Regions from separate parts of the Homo sapiens genome. Here region 1 is linked to region 2. A link means that fine-mapping ties the variant in region 2 to the plasma level of a protein whose gene starts in the linked region. Region 2 holds a variant in brackets. A gene starts in the other region. All regions are shown on their forward strands.

Region 1 (11,966 bases), not on the chromosome of region 2:
ACAGCCAGCTAAGAATGCCAGGGTGCTGACTGGAGAGCCAAGAGGCACCCGGGGGCCCAGGGCAGGCTGCTCTGAGTGAGGCTGGGTCAGCACCCGACACCTCACTCCCAGATCAGCCCAGCTCCATGTGCCAGGGCCCTGAATGGGGCTTTCCACCTGCCAGGCCTGTGTAGACCTACATGGGGACCCTGGCCTGTGCCCACTCAGCCCCTCCTAAGGCCACTCTCGAGGTGTGCCAACTGCCCTGCCTTTCTTCTCCACCTCCTGGTCTGGCTGCTGTGGGTTGCCTCCATCGGACAGGACACAGCTGCGGAACAGTGTCAGCATCACCCCATGCCCCGCTGCCCTGCTGCCCCGCAGAAGAGGCCCCGCAGGCCATAGCAGGCAAGACCAGAGGCTGTATGAAAGAGGCAGGGGAGAGGTGGCCCCAAGGCACCCACTGCACAAATGGCTGCCCAGACTCTACTCACTCACCATCACCTACCCGGCCAGCCCACGGTTGTCAAAGCCTCAGTGGGCTAGGAGGGGCAGGATCTGGCCCTGCTGCCGAGTCCCCTGAAATCAGCCCAAGCATCGGGGGAGAGGCACGTGACCAGACCCCAGACCTGGTGGGTGCCAGCTGAGGACATGGTGGGGTGGGTGTGCAGAGCTGCATCTCCCAGTGTCCAGCTCCACGGCTGCAGGCAGTGCAGGAGGCCGGTGCAGGTTTGGATAAATAAATGATGGTGCATTCTCAGGAAGGGATTCCACACACACCAGAAAACCCATGATGCACAAGAATAGTTCCCGATGTGCAAAATGTTTAAAATACAGCGATAAAAGAAGAAACGGCAGCACAGAACACCTGGTGTGGGGGAGCCCAGCTGGGCCCCAGGGACAGTGCAGGGAGATTTGTGGGGTGGGGCAGCATGCCCGCCGCTCCGATCGGGCTTCCCTGGGCCACTCTGTGACCTCCTATCCTTTAAAGCATTTAATCCTAGAGATGCCCGATGCCAAGGATCACACCCCTTGATTTGCCTGGCTCAGAAGAGAATCTGACAGGCTAGGAACGAACGAGTGAATGAATGAACAAATGAGAAAGTGAATGGATGGTTGGGGCAAATGCAGCATCTGGGATCTGGCTTTGAGGAGGGTGCCTGTGACCTTGGCCTGGGTGCAGCCAGACCGCAGAGCAGGGACACTGAGGGGTGCAGAGAGGGACCCGAGAGGGCATCTGCACAGCTGCAGAGGCAGCAGGCGGCCAAGCCAGCTCCCGCAGACCCTGAGGCCCAGGCCCTGGGTGGCTGCAGAGGGTCAGGCAGACCAGCCTGGGGGTCAGAGGTCAGGCTCACCAGAATGGGGGCGGGACGGCATGAACCTCATTGATCAGATAGTAGCCAAGTGTCAGGAGCCCTCACTAACCCTGTGCCAGGGCCGGGCGGGGCGCCTGGCTCACACACGCATTTGTTCATTTCCAGGTCATCCTGAAACTCCCCGTGTGCTTCCTGCTCTTGACCCCTTTCCCAGGTGCACAGACCAAGGCTCCCGGTGAGAGGTTCCGGGCCACAGGCCCAGGACAGCAGGAGGGCTCCTCTGCCTCCCGCCCGTCCTGTCCTCACCAGCTGGACCCTCCTGGTGTTGCACCGGCTGCACAGGGCCGTCCGTGCCACAAAGCATGAATTCAAGGCTGGGGCAGGGACGAGGAGAGGGCAATGCTACAAGGCTGCACTGTTCCTGGGCAGAGGGAGGGGGAGAGCACGGTCCCACACACCCTGGCCCTCACAGCCTGCCTGTCACTCACAGCAACAGCAAACAAACCCTGGCCCCTCCACAGGCTGTGGGCCAGTTCCCAGCCTCCCAGGACAGCAGGACCTTCCCCCACCTTCCAGGGCCCCAGCCCCTGTAGGGGTGTCCTCCATGGACCCTCCACAAGCCCTCTGGCTTTCAGAGACGTGCTGGGCCAGGCCCTCCCTCAGCCTCTCCCCTGCTTCTCACTCCATGCAAACCTACGTTTCTGCCAGTCCCAGCAGAAGGACCCTGGCACGGGGAAACTGAGGCTCAGGGGTTCCACAGACCCCCAGGTGAGGAACAGGGGGAGGGCAGGGAGGGAGTGAAGGTACTATGGGAGGGTCTCCCAAGCTGGGCAGCATCCCTGCCCTGTCCCCTCTCCACTCACCTGTGGCCCGAGTTGCCTGACTAGGGGCTTTTATTGTCCCTTCTGCACATGGATGGGGTGAGGGGCCAGCTGGCAGTGCAAAGGTCCCAGGAGGACTCTGCTGAGTGGGGGTGTGGGGAGGTGTTGTGGGCATTCTGAGGCAGAAGCACCAGAGTCAGAACTCCACAGGGAAAGCCGGGCCAATTCCGCCCAGCCTCAGCCTGGAAGTGCCCCGATAATCCCTGACCACTGGCCCATGGTGCAGGTGAGGAAGACTGAGGCAGAGAGGCGACCTGTCACACCCAAGGTCACACCGCCAGCAGGTGGCTGAGCCAGGACCCAAATCCAGGTCACGGTTCTGCCACGGCAGGCCCTGCACGTGCCCCTCTGCCAGGTGGCGTCTAGGTGCTGATGGCCACCCATTCCCACCCCCGGCATGGGAGCTCACTTCCTCCTCACCTCAGTAGAGAAGAACAGGGAACAGTACCCCCTTTATAGATGGGAAGACTGAGGCTTAGAAAAAGAGACTGGCCAGCCCCACTGCTTCAGCTGCCCCTCTGCTAGTATGTTTCACCCTCACACAACCTACAAGGATAACCTGCTGGTCCCCACTCTATAGATGAGCCTCTGGTGGTGGCCAGGGGAGCAGGAGGTGTGGCCTGCCAATCCAAGCCCCAGCCCAGGGCCCTTGCCACAGTGCTAGTGGGCCACCCTTGCCCATCATGCAGCATGGCATCCATCTGCTCAGCACCCTACACAACACCGGAGGTAGGGGAGCCCACCACAGAACCCCTCACCAAGAAGGTCCTCACCATGGAGAAACTGAGGCACTGGAGGCGGGGCCTCTGCAGTCACGCTGGGTCACGTGCTCCAGTCAGCCAAGCTGCAGCGGCCACCAAGGGTGCCCAGGGTCTGGCCTGTTGGTCACAGTGTTGACCTCATGGCCTGAAATGGGTCTTCCCTGCCCAGACAGGTTCCAGCCCACCATCATCTATCTGCCTCAGCCCTGGTGGGTAGGGAGTGGCTGGGAGACCCTGCCCCTCACACCCTGGGCTTTGCGGTATTCAACGAGCCCCCAACACACATTCCAGGGCCTCTGCTCCAGATTAGGCCACAGCCTGTCTAGGCACACAAGGGGCACCCACACCCTGGAGGCAAAGAGACATGCCTATGTGCCCGCAGGCACACATGATCACGCGCACAGACACACGTGCAGATGCATACCAAGTTACACACACGCACACAAGCCCGAGGCGGGGACCCCCAGGACACGGAGGCAGGCAGGCAGAGGTGGGGCCCAGGATGTCTTGCCCCTGTCTGTGGGCCTGGCCTCCCCACTCAACAGACGAGCATGTGGGTGCGGGAGTGGTTATTGCGAAAGGGGCCCCAGCATGTGCCACCCGTGGAGACCACAGCAGGCATGCCGCGTGCATGCATGTGTGGCCGTGGGTGTGCAGGCGGGGGCGAGGACACAGATATGCACCCTCAGAGTCCGTGTGTGCACCCAGTGTTTGTGCATGTGCACACTGGGGCGGCGTTGGCTTGCATGTGCACCAGAGGTGTGCAAGTGTGCAGTCCGTGTAGACAAGTGCACGTGCAAGGAAACGTGTGTGCAGCCTGCGGCACCATGGACATCAGCAGGGCAGCCTGGGTGGGCACCTGGGGAGCACCCTCCAGGCGGGGCATGCCCAACTCACATGGAGCCCACCCTCCCTTGCCCGCACCGCGGGACCTCACAGCCGGTGGGGCGGGGGAGTCCCACGAGGGCTGCTAGGGAGGGGTTGCTGATTGCCCCACCGCCCCTGATTCCCCCAGCCAAGCCTCTCAATGTCCCTCGGGCTGCAGATGGCGGGCGTTGCTGCCTCCTCTCACCGCCCGCCCTGGAGGCAGCGCTGGGACAACCCTGTCCCCCACGCCCTCTACTGCCGCCAACGCCCCCATTCATCCCACTGTGGACTGACCTCGGAGAAACGGGAGGTTCTGAGCCCAGACCGTGAGGCTGGGGTGGAGGCGGCCCGACACCCCCACCCACCCTCGGTACCCACGTTTCTGCAAAAACCCGCTCGTTAACCCCTTGGTGGCCGGGGCGCTCCGAGGCCGGGCCCCGCCCTTCCAGCCCACGGCCCCCGCCCTCGACTTGGCCCAGCATCGGGGACCCTCGGACCGCCACCCTCGGCCCTGCCGAAGCCGTCAACTTTCCCGGGAAGCGGCAACTTTTCCTGCCGCCTCCGGCTCCGCCCTCCCGGGGCCGGGGCGCCAGCGGCCCCAGCCTGGCGCGGCACTGCGGTGGCTTTCCCTGCCGCCCGGCTACGCTTCCCTCGCCTCGGCAGCCCGGGACGGGCCCTGCGGCTCCGGGGAGGGGGCGAGCCGCCCCCCTCCGCGCCCCGCCGCCGGCCGGGCTCGGGTGCAGCGCGGACACTCACCTCCAGCGGACGCCCTCTTCATCGTAGGGGTTGGGCGGGGCGCGTCGGGGACTGAAAGTCGTTTCGGGGCGGGCGCCCGTCTCCCCGCGGCCGGGTCCGCATCCAGGCGCCGCCGCTACGGCCCGGCCCCGGCCCGGCCGCGGGACGAGGCTCGGCGCGCTCCGCTCCGCCCGGCTCTGGCTGGGCTCGGGCCGCGGGTGCGCAGGGCGCGCAGGGCGCACAGGGCGAGGGCGGCGGCGGCGCGGGGGTTGGGGCGTGGGCGGCGCGGCGGGCCGGGGCGCGCAGGCCGGGCCGCAGGAGGCGCTCAGCCCGCCCGGTGCACCGGCGCCGCGCGGTCCCAGACAAAGGCGGCGCATTCCTGAAGAGGCGGCGGCCCCTGCAGGCGGCGGAGGGGATGGCGGCCCGGGCCGGAGCCGGCCGGGGACGCGGGCCCGAGGGTGTGGCGGCCTAGGCTGGCCCGGTCCCCAAGCGGGCAAGGGCTTTGTCCCGAGGCCTAGGAATGGCCTCTGCCTGACCCACTCCCTTCCTGGCCTCACGAAACCCATGAATCCCCCGCCCCCTGCACAGAAGCCCCTTGCTGCAGCACGATCGCCCCCATTTTTCAGTAAGAAACAGGCTCAGGGCTTAAGAGAGTTCTGGGGGCCCTCCTGGGCCTTTGTGGCCCTCTCTGCACCATCCTAGAGAAGGGACCTAGGCCTGATGTTACCCGTAACCCTGCAGGGGTCCCCCACCTCTTCCCTTCTGCGGAATGGGGGCTCCAAACCCAGAAGACGCTCTCCGAGGTCACCTGCTTAGTATCCCCCCACTCTACCAAGCCAGCCCCCCACGGGCGGTGTGAGGCATGGGGCCAGAGAATCCAGTGACGCCCCTGCACACACCACACAGGGGTGCAGGTGTCCCTTCTCAATCTTCTGCTCGGGGCACCTACCGGGCCTCACCGATGAGCTCCTAAGTGCATCCCGGGGTCTTCAGACAACTGCCAGGCTGCCCCTGCACCTGGAGAAGTGCTGGGAGTCAGCTCAGCCGGGCTGGGTCCTCCCCAGGCCCACCCTGCATGAGAGGACCATGCAGATGAGGGTCTTGCAGGCCCACCTGGTGTCAGTCTGTAGGACCCTGACTCAAGGACGGAGTGGGCCAGCCTGATGCCTTGATGGCCCCCCTCAGAGCCCAGGTCCACTGATATGAAGCAGAGAGACCTGGTGACTGGGCACCCCTGTGCCCTCTGCCTGCCCCTGGCCATGGAGGTGGCCCTGAGGGAGATGAGCAGGGCGCAGGGCCGGTGACCTGCCTGCCTTGTGCAGAGGAAGTGAGGACCTCCCAGAGCCCTGGTGCTCCCATCTGATCCCAGTGGCAGGCAGCTTCGCAGGGTGGAGCCATGCTGGGTGGGCCCTCTGCCTGGTGTGGAGGCTGCACTGCCCACATGCCTCTGGCTGCCGCTCTGTGGCCCTCATCACTTTGGCCTGCTTTATCCCTATCACCCTTGTCCCAGCCTAGGCTTATGAGGGCATTGTGGAGTGCATGCCATTCCCAGCCACACAGAAGGTGAGGTGGGGCCCAGACACCCCCAGCCACTCTGTCCCCTGGCCTCCTGAAGGGGTGGGCTGTGCACACACTGCCACCTCCCCAGAGGGTGCTGGCTGCCGAGTGCCACCAGCTCAGCCCCTGAGGTGGCTCAACAGGTCCTCCCAGAGCCACACCAAGACGTCATCACCCATTGCACAGATAGGGAACCTCAGGCGAAGCTCACAGAGCCAGTGGGAGGCTGAGGCCTGACCCCCAGACAAGCATTCTTCTCCAGGGTCCCTGCACACAGCAGCCCCCAGGCTAGGAACTGAGCTCTCTCCACAGGGATGTATCAGACCCTAGATGAGTCACGTGGCACTGACCATCAGTCTGAGGACAGCGCTGGGGTGGACCAGGCTCCAGTCTCGGGCTGCTCTGTGCTTGCAGAAAGGCCTTGAGAGGACACTTGCTTGCTTACTCCGCAGGCGTCTCTTCAATTACCAGTGACCCAGAGCAGCCCACTATAGCTGAAGATTGTGACCCCACACCCTATCTCATAGGTTTAAAGCCCCTCCCACCCCTCCTGCCGCAGCCGAAGTGACCATTCTGGGGCATGGGATGGGCATGGGGTGAAATGGGGAGCAGGGGTGGCCCTGGAGGCTTCTGGCACCAGCACCCTCTCCAGCCACCAACCTGGCTGTTCCCGGTTGCTCTGCGCTGGGACCTGGGCCTCCACCTCCCCACAGGTCTCTGCATGGGAGCAGGGCTGAGGCCTGCAGAGGGAGCGCTGGGGGATGGGCTGGTTTCCTGTGTCCGCCACCTCGGTCAGCACGTTGGCCAGCACCCTCCCCACTGGAAGCTGGGCCCACTCCTGGGTGCTAGCTGGGATGGTTAGGCGTCGGCCAGCGCTGATAGGGAGTTATGGGGGTGCAGAGGCAGAGTTGAGCAGGGCTAGGCAGCCGGTGGGTCTGCTACCAGCAAGGCACAGCCCACTTCTCAGGCTGCGCATGTGGGAGGGTTTGGTAAGCCACATTTTTCAGGGTGTAGCCGGGTGAGGGGTAGCATGGGGAGTGGTGTACTCTTTGGGCAGGCGACCACGGAGCCATCACCCCCCAGGGCCCAACGGGCAAGAAGGGGAGCAGCTGACGGCTGGTGAGGGGCTAGCAGGGAGGGCTTGACAAGGGCTGGAGCCCCTGGTCAAGGGGCACAACCAGTTCTATCGGGTCACCTTGTGGGAGGAGCCAGGGACCCTGTGGGCAGAGCCTGGCCGTCTGCTGCCCGGAGTCTACACCAGTCAGTTCCTAGGAAGCCCCATCAGGGGTGCTGGGAGGACAGGCCATCTGTGCCCAGCTGATGCAAGCTCCCAGGCTTTCTGGACACGTGGCCCTGGGGATCAGGAGTGAGCTGGAGACTGCAGACAGCTGTGCCCTCAGGGCCACACAGACCTGTCACACCCTGCCTGGACTGGGTCAGCAGGGCCACACGGGCATCTGCCCGAATCGTTCCCCACCTCACACCCACCATGTGGGGCACATTCTTTGCCAGCTTCCCCAGCCCACCACCCCTCTACAGTGAGGCCAGGGGCTGTCTCACCTCCCACCCACACCCACACCCAAAATGTGGGGCTCAGCCTCCACGACCAGCATGCCGGTCATGAGGGCCCTGCCCAGCTGTGTGACCTCAGCCCAGTCCCTTGGCCTCGCTGAGCTTGCACAGCATGTGGACGAGGCAGACGCTAATGCCTCAGGTCCTGGTCAGCTGGTCACCATCCCTCCTTTGTTCACCTCGCCTGTCCCCTGAGAGGATCATGCAGGGTTTTCACTCAAAACTCCAGGACTGCCCATAGAAGCCAGCTTGAGATGAGGGGAACTTTCGCGGTGGCCTGTCTTGGGCTGACAGGGACACGGTTCAGCCTCCTTGGAAGGTCACTGCTTCCCAGGGCTTGGGAAGACTCATCTCCTGCCTGGAGAGATAGGCGTGCCATGGCTTTCCTTGGCATGCCTGTGCGGTACTCACGGACATCCAGGCCCTCAGTGTCTCCTGGGGAGGGATGGGGCAGCAAGGAAACTGGGTCTTTGCTCCACACATTCTGGGCCACTCCAGGCCAATGCAAGGAGAGACCAAGAAGGAAGCTAGAAGGTCATGTGGCAAGCACATGCCTGCTGCCCAAGTGTGTCAATGTGACTGACCTTCCCTGCACTCTGAGTGGGCGGCTGGGGATGTGGTCCCAGTGCCAGGGAGCTGGGGGGTGTTGGCCTGCCATCTGCTCTCACCATGGAGGGCGGCTGCATGCCCAAGGCCTAAGAGGACTCTGTGCCAGGCCTGCTGAGTGAGTCATCCCATTCAATCCTACAGTGTAGACACTACTACCACTACCCATTTTCCAGACCAGAGAAGGAGGTCTGGGGAGCTTAGGTGGACCCACATCTTGGCAGCCCCTTTCTGCCCTCTCTTTGTCCACAGCCTCCGCCTCCTCCAGAAGCCTCTCACCATCCCCCATCCCCGGGGCTGCAGAGGGTGTCCTGGCCTTCCCCTATCAGCTCTGCACCCCTGAGGACTCCCATCCCTAGGAGTCCCTCTGCCCAACTTTGGTGCATGTTAAGCCATAATTAATCTGCTTCCTCATCTCTTATTCATCAAAGCCACAGCAGCAGCAAAGGGGGCTGGCACAAGGAAGGGACCGACAACCAAACCCTGGCAGTGGCCCCAAGAATCCCACTGGGCCTGCCCATCTCCAAATGCCTCTGACCCTTCACTAGCGAGGGCCTCCTCCCACAGAATGGCATCCTGGATTGTGCCACACTAGGCAGGCCCCCTGACGGACCATGCGCACCTCCCACCACCTGGAGGCTGCTGGGGACCGTCAATGGGACGTATGCATTGCACAGTGATGGCCCTTACCTCTGCGTCCCCCAGCCCTGGACTGGATCCCTTGTGGCCCATCTCCAGGATGGGAGCCTGAACGGAGATGAAAGGACACTCGGCCAAGTGGGACATGCCAGGCTGGCACCTGGACCCTGGTCCGCCACTCTTCCTGGTGCCTAGAGGAAGGGGTGAGTCCCCAGGGCTCCTGGACCTTGAGATGAGCCTCGGGCCACTTGTGTTTGCCAGCAGATGGGCTCAGGGTCTTCTCTCAGTGGGCACAACCGAGTTGGTGGCCTCTCTCTGGGGAGGCCGGCTGGTGGGGGCTGGGGAGTAGGCGGCTTCTGGTCCCTGAAGGCCCAAATCTGGTGCAGGGGCAGAGCTCCGGAAGGCGGGGGTCCCTGGGCTGTGCCCAAGGCATCCGCTGTGGCTTCACGCCCCTCCCCCGCCCCTGCAGGGAGTGTGGATCCTTCTAGAGCCACCCACCTGGCAGTGACAGCTAAATTGGGAGCCGCTGTTCACACCAGGAGCCCAGCGGGCAGTCAAAACCGGGTCGGGGGGGAGGGGCACCCGCTGAAAACACCCACAAGCTCCCAGTGGGGCAGGGAAGGCAGGGAAGGCATGGTGATAGCTGTCAGCAGGAGTGGGTGGGGAGTGGAAGGCAGGGTAGACCGCCAAACCCATCTTGGGGCCATAGTGAGATGGCCCCTGGGATGCTTCGGCTGGCCAGTGCCCAGCCTTGCTCTTGTAGGAGCTCCCTGGGCCCCTGGGTTCCCCACTCTGGGCCACCACAATCCATGCAGCATGCAGGTTTGTTCCGTTTCCCAGATGGAGAGGCTGAGGGCTTACCACAGGGTTCCGTCAAGGACGCAAAAGGGCCAGCCTGACTCTGAGCTCAGTAGCCCCACCCTCCACAGCCTCCCTTGCCGCCTTCATCTGCTCACTTCCTCAGTCACTCAACAAACACTCTGGGAGGCAGACTGTAACACCCTGCATACCTCTGCTGGACCCCCATTCCACATATCCCCACTGGTTACAGGTGGGGAAACTGAGTGCCTGGGAGGCGGGCCTTGGCCTGAGTCCCCCAGTCAGTGATTCCAGGATAAAGGGCATAGCCATGCCATTTGGTCACTTGAAGCCCACAGGGGTGACTGGGAAGAGCCCACCTAGCACCCCACATTCTGCTAGGGTGACTCAGACCAAGTCCTTGGGGCTCTGCCCCCCAGCCAGTGGCTCTGCCTCTGAGAGCCATGGGACAGGGAGCTGTGCAGGGTGGGGCCAGCAGAGCCTGTGCCCCTGCCTGAGCTAGTCGTGATGGGGCCTGCCCTGACCCCTTCCCAGGCTCATGGGTGCGGAGCAGGGCGGGGCCTTACAGTGAGATGGGGGCCTCTGTGGGCAGTCCTGGAGGCCAGGCCCTGGGGCTGGGACTCACTGGCACAGGGCCTAAGTTTCCTCCTGTGTCCGCAGGCCTTATTGCCTGCAAGGGAGGTGGAGGGGCACAGGGGCGGTGCCCAGCGTGAGGAGGGGGCTCTGAGGAGGCTGCAGCAGCCGGCAGGCCTCTGAGACTGGGATATTTTTAGCCAGGATTCCTGCTGACGGTCCAGGCTGGCCGGGGTTTGCTGCCAGCCTTAGAGGCGCTTCTCCTAGTCTGTGTCCGGACATCTGGGGTCTGCTGGCCCCACCCACCCTCTGCTCAATGCCCCCGCCCCACTGGCCCATCCAGCCAGGCGAGGGGCTCCCAGGAGGCCGGCCATGGTGGGAGCAGAGCCTGGGGCCCTCGGGGTGTGGCTGAGAAGAGGCCACATGGGCTGCTGGGGGCTGCCTGTGTCCTGGGTCTCCAGCTCCCAGCTGCCACTCTTAGCCGACCCGCTTAAGGGGCAGGTTTCTGGAGGCTCCGGTTCATGCCCAGGCTCGAGTTCTGAACTGAGCATTCTCAGTCCGCTGCCTGCTGCCTGCTGGAACGGATGGCTCAGCAGAGCGGCCACAGCTTGGCTCCCTCCTGGGCACTCCTGCCTGCCCTTGCCGCTTAGGTGCTCTGGTCATCAGGCCTCTCTGGCTGGCTCTACCAAGGTGCATGTGTGCAGGGCCTGGGCTTGCAGGGCCTTGTGGCTCAGCCAGGACCACCTCCCTTCCCATGGGCAAGTGAGGACATCCAGAAAGAGGGTCCTCTGCCTCGGCCACTCCCTTGGGACACCCCTCCACCCCAAGGCCTCTCGTGGAAACAGAGTCCAGCACTCAGCGTCATGCCTATGCACTCCACCGGCAGGACTGGCTGAGTCCCGAGGAGCCAGGCCCTGGGGCACAGGCCAATCGGATGGAACCCAGATGAAAGCCCAGTGCTGGGACCCACGGCCCATTCTCTGGCCTGGCTGAAGCCTGATGGCTTGTTCCTTGAATGAATCAGGAGGCCCATCCAGAGCAATTGTGAAGTTCACATGAAAGAATGAACGTACGGAGAGAGATGGGCCATGTCGCATCCTGAAACGCCTTATATTCTAAGACCATGATAATTAACACAGACCCTGGACAGTCACACGATGGGAAAGAGTCCAGAAAGAGGCTCAAATGCAAATATGAGAAGAGGCAGGTCAAATCCAAGAGGAGAGATGGAATATTCAACAAATAATCCCACATATACAATCAACACTTGGCCTTAAGACAACGGAATTGACATATGGAGGAAACATTTGGATTCCTACCTCACTCCTTGACGCTAAAACAAGTTCCAAGTGGAACTAAGATTTAAAAAGTAAAAATGAAACCATAAAACTCCTAGAAGAAAGCATGGATGGCAAAAAACCAATCTTGAGTCACTCTAAGAATTATACAAAACCCAGAAGCCATGAAGTAAAAGATGGGTATATTCAACCTCGTGAAAATAAAAGGCAGATGCATGGAGAGAAAAAAACCACCATAAAATGATAACCAACAAAGGGTAAAAACATCGGCAACTCAGTTCACAAAGGGCCGTTTTTGGTTCTCAATACAAATCAGTAAGAAAAAGAGCAACAGCCCAAGAGAAAAATGGGCAAAGGCATGAAAGG
Region 2 (12,456 bases):
ATTATTCCTTTTTTAAGGATAGCACTCCACTTAAATTGTAGATTTAGACGTAGATGTTTTACACACACACACACACACACACACACGTATATGAGTATGGACATTATGGGAGGGGGGTGTATTTCATGCCTTTCTCCTAGAAGGTCAAAGTTCTGTAATATAAGAATTTAAAGATCATAAAATGCCAGTGCAGCAGGGAAGAGTATAGGAGGCATAGTGTATATAAGCAACTAAAAGTGGGGAGAGAAAGAGAACAAGATTCAAATCTGTTTCAACCACTTAGCAGCTATGTGATCTTGGGCAAGACCCTCTTGTTATTTGCTGCCGAGAGCACAGTTGTCAACACTAAATGGCTTAATAGAAGTAAAGCACTGTGTTTAGTATATAGTAGGTACTCAATAAATGACAGAGAGTTTATTATTGCTATCACCATATGGGGGAACTTGGAGTTATTCAGGCTCTGTCTGTTCCACTTCAAAATAAAGGTTTGCGATGTGCAACAGGTGGTCAGTCAATAGTCTGCTGTATCTTCATGATACTTTGCAACTGTTTTGAAAATTTTTTTCCTAAACAGATTCTTTTTAAGGCCTATATTATAATCTCCCTAACCTGCCCTCCCCCTGAGCCCCCTCTCTACACACACACACAATTCACCATTTAATTGCCTTGTTGCTTTAGCTTCCTGGAGACACAGCCACAGAGCTAAATATAGCTCTGTCCTTCCCAACAAGCAATCCTTTAAAGGAGCTAAATTGCCTTGCTTTTTTACTTCTTACCAAAACTTGATCTCAAGCTTTATAAAAGAGAAAAACTAAAGGCCTTCTACCATAGAATGTTTAGCAATCGACATGCTGTCCATTGCTTGAGAGGTTTTGTGTACTGGCACTTAATCCTTGCTTCAGTTACAACCCCTGTAGGGAAATTTGAGTCCTGTACACGGGTTCTTCATTCATTTCTGAGCCAAGATAATTCTAGGATTACCATTTAGAAAATTGGGAGAACAGACTTTTGCACAGTTACCAGGCAGACGGTATTGAAAAAAAAGGGGCATGTAGACTACCTTTTTGGTGACAAGGTTAGGGATAGGTATTGTGGTTAAATCCCATTAGCAAGAACATCACACTCATTAAGTGAATGCCAGAATGTGAACCAAGAAGCCTTCCTCTTCCCCACCCCGCCCCGCCCCTATTTCTTCTCCTCCTAATGGCATGCCCCTTCAATACAGGGGATTCCTTGCCCAGGAAATGCCTCTCCAGCGTAAATCACAGAGTACTCCCATGCCAAGTCGCTCCAAAGCCAGAGCGCACTGCCTAGGACACATGCCATTCTCCAAAAATCTACCAGCATACACGATTCATAAGCCGTCTCTCTCTTATTTCTTGGGTGACCTTTAGGGTTTGGAAAGTATTCCTTTGTGTTAAAGCAAACACAAACTATTCTGCGAGCATAGTTCAAGAATTTAAAGATTCTATTAATCTGATGTCTTAATTGTTATTGAGAAGAGGAAACAGGAGTGCCTTTGTTTCCCGAATGACCACATGCTTCTAAAAAGTGGCCCACAGTGTTGGAGTTTGCATCTCAAGTTGCAGGCAGCTCTGTATGAAGTGGAACTTCAGCGTAACTAATTCCCAGACATTAAGAGGGATAGGGAAAGAACAGAAAGCTGGGCAAACCCGAAGCAGGCTGCAGCAGGGCAAACTGAAGGAGCCCTGCTCCTGGACCTGCCTGCATTCCGAAGACCAGTTTAAAATAATGATTGATAAATGTGGATTTCACTACACAATACATGCGTGTAAGAAACCTGCACCTGTACCCCCTAAATGTGTACAGATAAACACAAAATTTAAAAGAAATCCAGATCAAAGGATTGCTTATAAATACTACCTTGGAACAGCAGTTCATGAGACATTTCACAGTATCCTCTCTCACTTTGGATAGTCACATGAAAAAATACATTTTATTTACTAGGTCAAAATGGGAAAGATACATAAATAAATGTGTATTTCAAAACTAAAGGTGCTAAGCAGGACATAGCAAATGGGGAAACACACACGCACACAATGCTGAACAACAACATGCAATCAAAGGAGAAAGAAAAAAATCTTACACGGATGAAAATATAAAAATCATTGTAATTCAATAATAGCATTCTGTGTGCCTACTATGTACAAGGCACTGAGAGTCCAGGCTTAGAAGAAAGAAGCAAGATTTATTTAGCTCCTGTCTCCCAAGCATTTACCTTCTATTAGGAAAGAATAAATCAAGTATAGAAATATCTACGATACAGGCTGAATACAATAAACGCCCCAAGAGGAAGAGCACATCTAGCTTGGCTGAGAAAGAAGTATATGGAACTAAAAATAGCTCCATGGACAGGGTAGCATTTGAAATGGGCCTCAAAAAAACAGTTAAAAAAATGCAGCTTAAAAAAATGATTGAACAAACATTCTGATTGAAGAAATAAAATGAGCTAAAATAGGGAAGCAGAGAGATATAAAGAATTTAGAGGAGGCCAGGTGTGGTGGCTCACGCCTGTAATCCCAGCACTTTGGGAGGCCGAGGCAGGTGGACCACCTGAGGTCGGGAGTTCGAGACCAGCCTAACCAACATAGAGAAACCCTGTCTCTACCAAATATACAAAATTAGCCAGGCATGGTGGCACATGCCTGTAATCCCAGCTACTTGGGAGGCTGTGGCAGGAGAATTGCTTGAACCTGGGAGGCAGAGTTTGCAATGAGCTGAGCTCACACCACTGCACTCCAGCCTGGGTGACAAAGTGAGACTCCATCTCAAAAAAAAAAAAAAAAGAATTTAGAGGAAAATAAGCAATATTCTGTATTGAGCATAGGATATTTAGGAGTTTAGTGGAAGATAAACAAAAAGACATTGTGGGTGACTTGAAAAAAGAGTAGTTTACCCTGGATTGAGGAGAAAACTAGTTACTGACAGTTTTTGAGCCCTGAAATAATGTGATCAGAGATGATTATTATGAAGAATACAGTAGTATGCAAAGCTATGTAGGATTATATTTTGGAGCAGGGACCCTGGTTTAAGGAGGAGCCACTCACTCATTCCTTCATTCAACAAAAATTAATTGAATACTTACCGTGTGCCAATCCACAGTCCAATTTAATCTATCTGGGAGGCAAAGCTCATCGTTTATGAACTATACATTTTAAAAGCAGAATCTATAGGACTTGAGAACTTACAGAAGAAAGTGGGAATGTGAGGCGGACTCCAAGTTTTGAGGCCAAAAACAATGGCAGAATGGGTTGGGGTGGGTTAGGTACAGAAATAGAAAAGTCAGGACGGGAAATGGTTGGAAGGTGGAGACAGAGCTGGAGTGGGTGCAGGTGTTGATTTGTACTTCACGCTCACTCTGAACTCCCCTGCAGAGTACAGCCAGCAGCTGGAAGAGATTGACGGGAGATGGCAGAGGAAAGAGGAAAAGAGAAGTCAGAGCTTAAAGAATGCCCGTATCAAAAAAAGAAAAGCCTTAGGGAGACAGAGGAAAAGACAGCGTGAAGGGAGAAGTTGATGTTTTTTGAGTGTTCTAGAACGGGGGTCCCCAACCCCAGCCTGCGGAACCGTACCAATCTGTGGCCTGTTAGGAACCAGGCCCCAGAAGGAGGTGAGCAGTGGGCGAGGGAGCATCACTTCGGATCATGCTTCCTGTCAGATCAGCAGTGGCAGTAGATTCTCATAGGAGCTGACCCCCATTGTAAGCTGCTCACGCCAGGGATCTAGGTTAGGTGCTCCTTATGAGAATCTAATGCCTGATGATCTGAGGTGGAATAGTGTCATCCCAAAATGATCCCCACAACCCTGTCCATGGAAAAATCATCTTCCACAAAACTGGTTCCCGGTGCAAAAAGGTTGGGGACCACTGTTCTAGAAGATAGCAAGGGTTAAACAGTGAGCAATTTAAATTTTTAAACTATCGCTGATAAAAGTGTAAAAGTCCAAAAAAAAATCTATCTTGCCAAGTTCAAAGTGTTAGGAATTGATCTAGGAGGTCCCACTTCCGCAGACATAATACGGCAGTCTCCCCTTGCGCTTGAGGGATACCCTCGAAGACCCTGAGTGGATTCCTGAAACCGAAGACAGCACCAAGCCCTAAACATACTATGCACACATTTCTCTTTCCCTCTTCGCAGTTTCATGGATACTATATTCATTCTTATTGTAGATCTCAGCAACCTCAGGATACTTTTTCTTTTCCTTATTAAGTCCAGAACTTTCACCTTTTCATTTAGAGGAAGCACTTTGCGGCTTCCCTTTGGCATCTCCGAATTGCCAGCATCACTATACTTGCACTTTGGGGCCATTACTATGTAAAATAAGAATTACTTGAACACAAGCACTGTGACATTGTGACAGTCAATATGACAACAGAGATGGCTCCTAAGTGACTACGGGCAGGGGTGGGCATACAGCATGGATCCGCTGGACAATGGGGACAATTCACAGCCCAGGCGAGACAGAGCAGGATGGCAGAAGATTTCATCTATTCAGAACAGTGTGAAATTTAAAACTTAGGAATTGTTTATTTCTGGAATTTTCTACTGAATATTTTTAGACTGTGATTGACCACGGGTAGCTGAAACCATGCAAAGCAAAACTGCGGATACGGGGGACTGCTGTACTAGGAGTCGACCAAAATTTATAAAGCATTTTTTTTTCTTTCCCCCTTCCTCATAGGAGGAGGAAGTACCAAATTATGGTAGTCTTTATGGAGAAATGCTGCATAAATAACTGCCAACAGCAAACAATGTATTATCCCTATGGTTCAATCATTTCTTGGAGGTTAAAAGATCACACGTGAAGGCCGGGCACAGTGGCTCATGCCTGCAATCCCAGCACTTTGGGAGGCCGAGGTGGGTGGGTCGCCTGAGGTCAGGAGTTCGAGACCAGCCTGGCCAACATGGCGAACCTCGTCTCTACAAAAAATACAAAAATTAGCTGGGTGTGGTGGCAGGCGCCTGTAATCCCAGGTACTTGGGGGGCGGTGAGGCAGGAGAATCTCTTGAACCTGGGAGGCAGAGGTTGCAGTGAGCAGAGATTGTGCCATTGCACTCCAGCCTGGGCAACAAGAGCAAGACTCCATCTAAAAAAAAAAGAAAAAGAAAAAAAAAAGATCATACATGCATCTTCCCTACCATTTCTAGATTTGTATTAATAAATAAGCCAAGTCGGTGAATTCTCTCTCTCTCTGTCTCTCTCTCAACTACTATTGCTTTAATCTTCCTGAAGTAAAAGTTTTTAAAAGAGAGAAGGAAGGAAGGAAGGAAGGAAGGAAGGAAGGAAGGAAGGAAGGAAGGAAGGAAGGAAAGAGAGAGAGAGAGAGAGAGAGAGAGAAAGAAAGAGAAAGAAAGAAAGAGAAAGAAAGTTGGATTGTTTGATAGGAACATACCACCCTTGAGTCTTCCCCTCATGAAACATGGATGCAGAGTTTTGGCCGGAATTAAAATTGCTAAACTGTGTTTGAGGTTGGCAGAGGAAGTGGTATGGAATTTACCAAGACAGGCTGGGAGTTGAAAAAAATTATAATCCAGGTGCCTCACCTTTTCCTCCACTGGTTGCTTTTCCCCCTATGCCCTGACGCCTGGGAGCTTATTTACCGAGTCAATTAACAAAAGATAACCTCCCATTGTGCAACCATCAATAAATCAATCGTGTTAATACTATCTTGGAATGTCCCCGACTATTGACTTTCATATTGTTTACATTAGCCACTTGAGAAAGCCAGAACCCTTGAGTCGGCTTGTTTGGGCGTTAATGGATTCTGGAGTAGCCATTACTACATATAAGTCTCTTTACAAAATATTGAAGTTTCTCTGAGGTTCACCTGCTTTCTGAACACTGGCGGTACACTCTCCTCCCTCCCCACACGATCCTGCAGCACCGAGTTTGATGAATACTTAGGAAGGCAAACAATCATGATCAGTAATGGAACAGTCACTTAGGGTACACCTACTTCTTTGTGAGTTGAATAATCTATTTCCACCCACCCCAGCCCCACACTGTCAACCACCATCAACAATCCGGGGAATCAAGTTAATCTTCAATTAGGTGAAAGAATTTCAGGAACGAGTGCAGCTCAAGTTACCAAGTAACTTACTGTTGTGAAA[C/A]GATTCATACTGCAAGCCGCCTAAATGCAGGGCTTTTGATGATATTCCCCGCCAACAAGGTAAGAAAAATCTTTCCAAGCAGTGACAATCTCTACATAGGGAACCTCCAAAACTTCTCAAGCTATCTTGAAAATTAATGCAACAGAACAAAATCTTTCTATATTTTCTCCATACATATTATAAAAAATAAGGTTGAATATCATAATCATAATTATAAAGCTGGGGTTTAGTGGGGTTTTTTGTTGTCATTAGCATTTCCTTCTTAATGGCATCAGAAATACTTAGAGAACAGGTTTTCCCTCAGAAGTCACAACTGCTCTGCTTCCAGGCCAAGGTAGTTTGCTAAGGCGCTCTATGCAGAGGGATTAAAAAGGAAGGTTGGGGGTAGCGAGGTGGGACACCAGTCCAGGGACTACAGAAGGTTCAGATTTCAGTGCTGGCTGCAGACCTGGGCAAAGTTCACTGCTCCCTTTTCACGACATGCTACATACTTTTCAAGTTCCCACTTGCTTCTTAGAGAGGAAAAAATGTGGCCTCCGAGTTCAGGTTGCTAAGGACAAGCTGAGCCAATTTAACCATGCATTCCTTTTCTAAAAGATAGGCTGGGTTGTTGTTGTTTTTTCACTGTAAATACCAGAAAGTCTTGATCCTCCCTACTCTAAACAAATACTTTTGCTACAACTTTGAAGTCATCTATCTTCCACGGTGGGAAACCAAGGATTGCATTCAGTAGCCTTTTCCTGCCTGAGTTTAGACAAAATTGAATAGTATTCTACTTTGTAGCACATCTTCTTACCAGACACCAGGCTTCGTTTTTCCTCTTGATAATGATGGGTATTTAAAATGCATATGACTATTGGATAATAAAACTCCCACTGTTCTAAGGCTTTCTTTTTGTCTTTCTTTTTTCTTTTCTTTTTTCTTTTTTTTCGCTTTGACTTCATGATATATATGTCTACTTAGGGTGTTTTGAAGAGAGTGAAGGAAACAGACAGGACTTTGAAAGGAAAAACAGACATCTAATTGGCTGTCTCTTGCCGACCCTCCAGTGACCCTGCACTGAATACCTCTAATGGACGTGTGTGATCTTGGAGCCTCTACCGCAATAAACGAGTTTTAGACTTTCAACTTGTTTTTGCAGCAGAATTCTTTATTCTCCTTAAAATTGATTTTTTAAAAAACGAGTGAGCAAGGCATTAGCATAGGTATTTTACACAAAAGGGTGAAATGGTTTTCTAATTTTATAGATTTAATATTTTTAAAAAGAATTTGGCTTCATTATGAATTTAGTTCATGTTAGTGTGTCATTTTACATACTCTAAAAAGTGGTTTTTTTAATATGGAAAGCAAATATTTGCCTTCAAAGCAGTAGTTTCTAAATCCAAAAAGTTCAGAAAGTCAGTTAGGAGGCAATAATCTTAACTCCAAAAATTAATAACTCTCATGACATTGTTTATGTGAAACCTTGGAACTTCCTGTGCTGTAAACCATCTTTGAGTCAAGCTAGAAAATAGTAAGAGTCAACTCAAATCCTTTATGCTTCAAAAAACACATGAGACTATTGAACAGGCTTTATTAAGTGATGTGGGGGTTAACGGTGAAAGCCCCCATTTCTATTTTTGTCAAAAGACTAGGAGCCTCATCCCCATCAGAGAGCTTTGCATTTCCCCTGCCACCTTAACTTCCTGGGAACTGCCAGGGTACACTACCTCCTTTCTTTTCTTCTTTTCTCCCTTTTCACTATCTAGCATTTCTTCCCTTTTATTGTTCTTTCTTCACGTCCATGTTGACCTTTTTTTTTTTAACTTATCATCTAGGATGAGTCAAGGCCTGCCTTGATGTTGCTCTGTGTCCTACCAGCAATTCTTCCTGGAATCGTCTGTTCACATGGATGTCTAAATGTTTAAGCACCCATGTAAATACTATGGTATCACTTTCTCATCAGTAGAGCTTTTGTGAGTTACAGAAAGGCTGAGACCAATGCCACAATTTGAGATTCCAATATGTGAAATAATAAAGACATCCCCTAACAGGACTTTTTAATAAATTAGGCTTTAACATTTGATATTTATAATGTTTTCTGAGAGTGTTCAATATAACAGAGAGTAGTATTCCAGTTATTATATATATTTATTTGGAAATAATGCCAAAACTCTACATTGTAGGCATGAAGGTGGGGCTTGCCTCCATCTGGCTCTCCTGCCACTTTCAACAACACACCCCACATCCGATCCTGCTTAGAGTCGAAGATGAATCTGGCATAATACAAACAGCACTGGACTGGAAGCATGAAGTTTCTCTTATCTGTGCCTTGGTTTCCTCATGTGGAAAATGAAAATGTTGACATAAATAATCACACAGGTCTCTGTTAGTACCATTTTGTGATTTTATATCGTGCTTACCACACCTAGAAACAGGGGCCATCATTCCAGCCAGCTAACAGAGAAAAAGACGATACATAATCAGGCTTGGGAAAATAAATTTCAGAGACCAAGTAAACAAAGACAACAATCTAGTATAAGGGTTATAACTGGGGGATGAGGGGTTGCAAATGGAGATCTGCCACAGTCAACTCTATTTGGATTCCCCTGTTCTCAACAGGCAACAGCAATCATAATGGGCTTGGAGCACCAGTCCCACAACATCACAGGACATCCAGACATAATTGCATTAATAATGTTGTGCATAATCGCACAACTCTCTGGTTATTCAGCATCGTCCAATATGTGAATAAAGCTCTGAGGAAAAATTAATGCTTGCTTAATGCTTTGACACATTTCCCTTTACAAAGCAAAGATCCCTACTCCTCTCACTTTCTCACATGGAGAAAAAATTAAAGTAGCATTACAACTAGTCAGCATCCACATGAGGCCTTATAATTAATCAGATCTACTGAGAGTTAGGTCCAAGATCCAGCGTAAGGAGAGATCAAGCAGAAACAAAATACACAGCCATTGCTCTGTATCTGTAGGAGATTGGTTCCAGAACCCCCTTCAATACCAAAATCTGCAGATGCTCAAGTGCCTTATATAAGATGGTATAGTATTTGCATATAACCTACGCATACCCTCCTGTATACTTTAAATCATCTCTAGATTACTTACAATACCTAATATAATGTGAGTGCTACGTAAATGGTTATACTGCATTTTTATTTGTATTACTTTTATTGTTGTATTATTACTTCTTTTTTTTTTTTACAATTATTTTTAATCTGTGGTTGCTCAAAGCTGCAGATGTGGAACCCAGGAATATGGAGGCCCAACTGTACTTTTACCTTATTATGTAGGCTATGCTAATATTAATGACTAGAATGTTATATTATTTCTTCTCAGATTTCAACAACAGTTGAGCCTCAGGGTCAAAGTATCCGGCACTAAATTGAAGAGAATGCTGATGATTAGGACAGGAAAGCAACTTAAGCATCTATTAGTCCAGCCTACTATGAAAAGTAGGAATTCCTTCAACAAAATTCTCGCACATGCCTATCCAACTTCCCAATGACTAAAGCAATAACAACAGTAATGATAATAATGAACACATATTTCATACTTACTGTGTGCCAGACACTGTCCTAAGTATATTGAGTAGTACTGACTGTGAATCAGCACTGTTCCTAGAACTTCATAGACACTCAACTTATTGAATCTTGAAAATGCCTCTAGGAGGTAGGATCTATTATTGCTCTTATTTTATAGATGAATCAATGGAAACAGAAAAGAGTTCACTAACTTGCCAGAGGTCACACAGATAGACTGAGAAGAGCTGGACAATTGCACTAAACAGACTAGCCCTGTAGCCTGTCCTGCTAATTCTATGCTACCAATAGGGGCAAGGGACAGAGACAAAGTAGGGAATTAGAGTCCATTTCAACACTACTTTAATTACTCAGTTTTCTGAGCAGAAGCTGCCTCCTTTAGTCTTCATATTGCCCACTAGTTCTAAACAGAATAATTATTCCTCCTTCCATTTGACAGTGCTTTTTTATCAAAGATTGACAAACTATGGCTCGTAGGCCAAATCTGGCCCACCATCTGTTTTTATGTGGGCCATGAGCTAAGAATGGATTTCAAGTTTTCAAATGGTTGGAAAAAATATCAAAAGAAGAATAATATTTTGTGACACATGAAAATCACATGACATTTAAATCTCAGTGTCCATAAATGAAGTCTTATTGGAACACAATCACACTTCACTTACATATTGTCTGTGGCTGCTTTTACTTTACTATAAGTCGGAATTAAGTACTTGAAAAAAGACCACATGGCCCAGTAAAGCCTAAAATATTTACTATCTGGCCCATTGCAGAGAATGTTTGCTGATTCTTGCCTTAAATAGTAGAAGGTAGTTCTCCTGTCCTTTCCTAAAAGTGCCCTTTTTTATAGTAAAATACCTCAGGTCCCCCCAACCACCACCATCTCATTATCCCGGAAACTCTTCTCTGGCATTCTTTGGTGCATATTCTCTCTCTCTAAAAATTCTCCTCAGTGGTATATGGCTACAATGGAATACTACTCAACAATAAAAAGGAACAAACTACAGTGGATACACACAACAACATAATGAATCTCCAAACCACTATTCTGAGTGAAAAAGCCCTGCACATCTTTTTCTCACTGCGTGATTGTATCTACAGGAAATCCTAAAATGGGTAAAACTAATCTAGGGTGAAAAATTATATATCAGAATAATGGTTGTCTTTGGGAAAATGGGGCAAGGATTGGTGGGATGGGCATGAGAGAACAATCTGGGATGCTAGAAACATCCCAGATCTTGAGAGTTGTTTGGGTTACACAGTTGTGTGTATTTGCCAAAATCCACCAAAATGTACATAGTTTGTACATTATACTGTATCTACCTCAAAAACAAACCTTGTAAATAAATATTGAATTCTAGTTAATGATCTGCATACTGAAAGGTTTAGTGGTAACAGTATCAAGGCCTGCAACTCATTTGAAATGCATCAGAAAATCAAGACGGTTGGATGATTGGGTGGAGGGAGGGACAGATGGCAAGAGATATGAAAAAGCAAGAGAAGTAAAGTGTTCATTGTCGAAAGTGGTTGATGGATACCTGGATGTTCACTATCTAATTCTTTCACCTCCTCTGTTTAAGTCTTGTGACAACAAAATTTCCTTCTAAAATAACATTTTCAAAGTAAAATTTTTATAATAAATGGGGCAGAAAGGATAAAAGTAATGTCTGGCATGAAACAAACTACTCTAAAAGTTGCACAAAGCGACATCACTATTTCCCTTCCTTTGGCCATTTTTATGTTAGCATTTATTTTCCTTTGATGTATCTGATTGGACCCTGAAGTATCCTACCTTCAAGGTATCCAAAAAGGTATCTTGGGTATCACCGTTAGGACTAGTGATGAGAATTTATTCTATGATGGAATCTAATTCCATGGCAAGTGGCCAACTTTCATTTCTTTGTTTAAATTTTATGATAAGAGATGCATACAGTGAAAGACATAGAAACATCCCCAGTCAGATGCCTCCGCCAAATCCGCTTGTGGAAAACTGTAAATTCCACAAGTGAGTTTACGCTCTTGTCTCATGAATGTGTAGAAAGAATAATGCATTTGTTTGTTTGATTATAGCTGAATTTCTGCCTTTGTAACCCCACCAGTAGGTGGTCATGTATTTCTCATACTAAGGTTCACTACCACTTCACAAACAATATGCTCAACACTGTTGCAAGCATCAGATGAGAGTGTGTGCCTGACAAAAATTTGAAAAAGTCCTCAAAATATGCAGCCTAATCTCTGGATTAACTGTTTCTTTAAAGGGCCTCTGCAGTGTATAATCTGCAGACTTGTTCTGTTGCTTTTATGCAATGCCAATATTATTAGTAGCAATAATACAATCACGCTTCAACTATTTGGAGGTCAATTAGCTGGAAAGTTCTGCCTTCTGAATGGAAGCTAAGAAACCAGTAAGTAAGCAAGAAAAATCCTGTGGGCAGTCAAAATAGCTGCAAAAGCTTCAGGGTGCCAAGCTCATATATTTGCTCATGGAAGACTCTCTAAAGCCAATGCTCAAAATCCTATGACACTTATTTATGCAAAATTCTAACAAGCCTGGGTTTCCAGCTCATAACCCTAACAGAGGTTGCATATAGGCAGGCATGGTGAAAGCACCAAGAATCAGAAGAGTAATCAGCCATCATTCAAAACTCAAAAAGGACTACAATTTGGGAGGATGGAATTCAGGGGTGGAAAAGTCCACCCTAATGCTACCAAGTTAACATTTTATAAACTATGTTCCTAAAATTATAGTTCCACAAGATATTAAAGAAGGTTTTTTAAAAATAAAAAAGA

Direction of the effects. Alleles are on the strand shown, and positions count from the first base shown. The strength of an association depends on the size of the effect and on how common the allele is.
For the plasma level of the protein whose gene starts at base 4,805 in region 1, allele A in region 2 goes with a higher level than allele C (weak association).

What was found. A credible set is the group of variants that fine-mapping cannot tell apart. PIP is the chance, under the fine-mapping model, that this variant and not a neighbour inherited with it causes the effect. The UK Biobank Pharma Proteomics Project read protein levels with antibody pairs (Olink). The fine-mapping took linkage between variants from a reference panel, not from the people measured, so its PIPs are less certain.
Region 1: RTN4R starts here. The variant in region 2 is the best candidate, but not a certain one, in a credible set for the plasma level of the RTN4R protein (UK Biobank, PIP 0.60).

Annotation. Positions count from the first base shown.
Region 1 is chr22:20,263,514-20,275,479 of GRCh38, forward strand. It overlaps RTN4R (reticulon 4 receptor), which reads right to left and starts at 4,805. Exons shown (of 2, transcript NM_023004.6): 1 at 4,558-4,805. The coding sequence starts at 4,579. RefSeq lists enhancers at 3,649-4,337, 11,151-11,651 and silencers at 4,549-4,708, 4,799-4,958, 5,009-5,068.
Region 2 is chr15:96,165,456-96,177,911 of GRCh38, forward strand. The region is part of intron 3 of NR2F2-AS1 (NR2F2 antisense RNA 1); the gene reads right to left. The region is part of intron 1 of LOC112268156 (a long non-coding RNA gene); the gene reads left to right. LOC105370997 (a long non-coding RNA gene) reads left to right here and starts at 6,128. Exons shown (of 3, transcript NR_188332.1): 1 at 6,128-6,190; 2 at 7,949-8,046; 3 at 8,297-8,880. The variant C/A (reference allele first, on the strand shown) is at 6,132.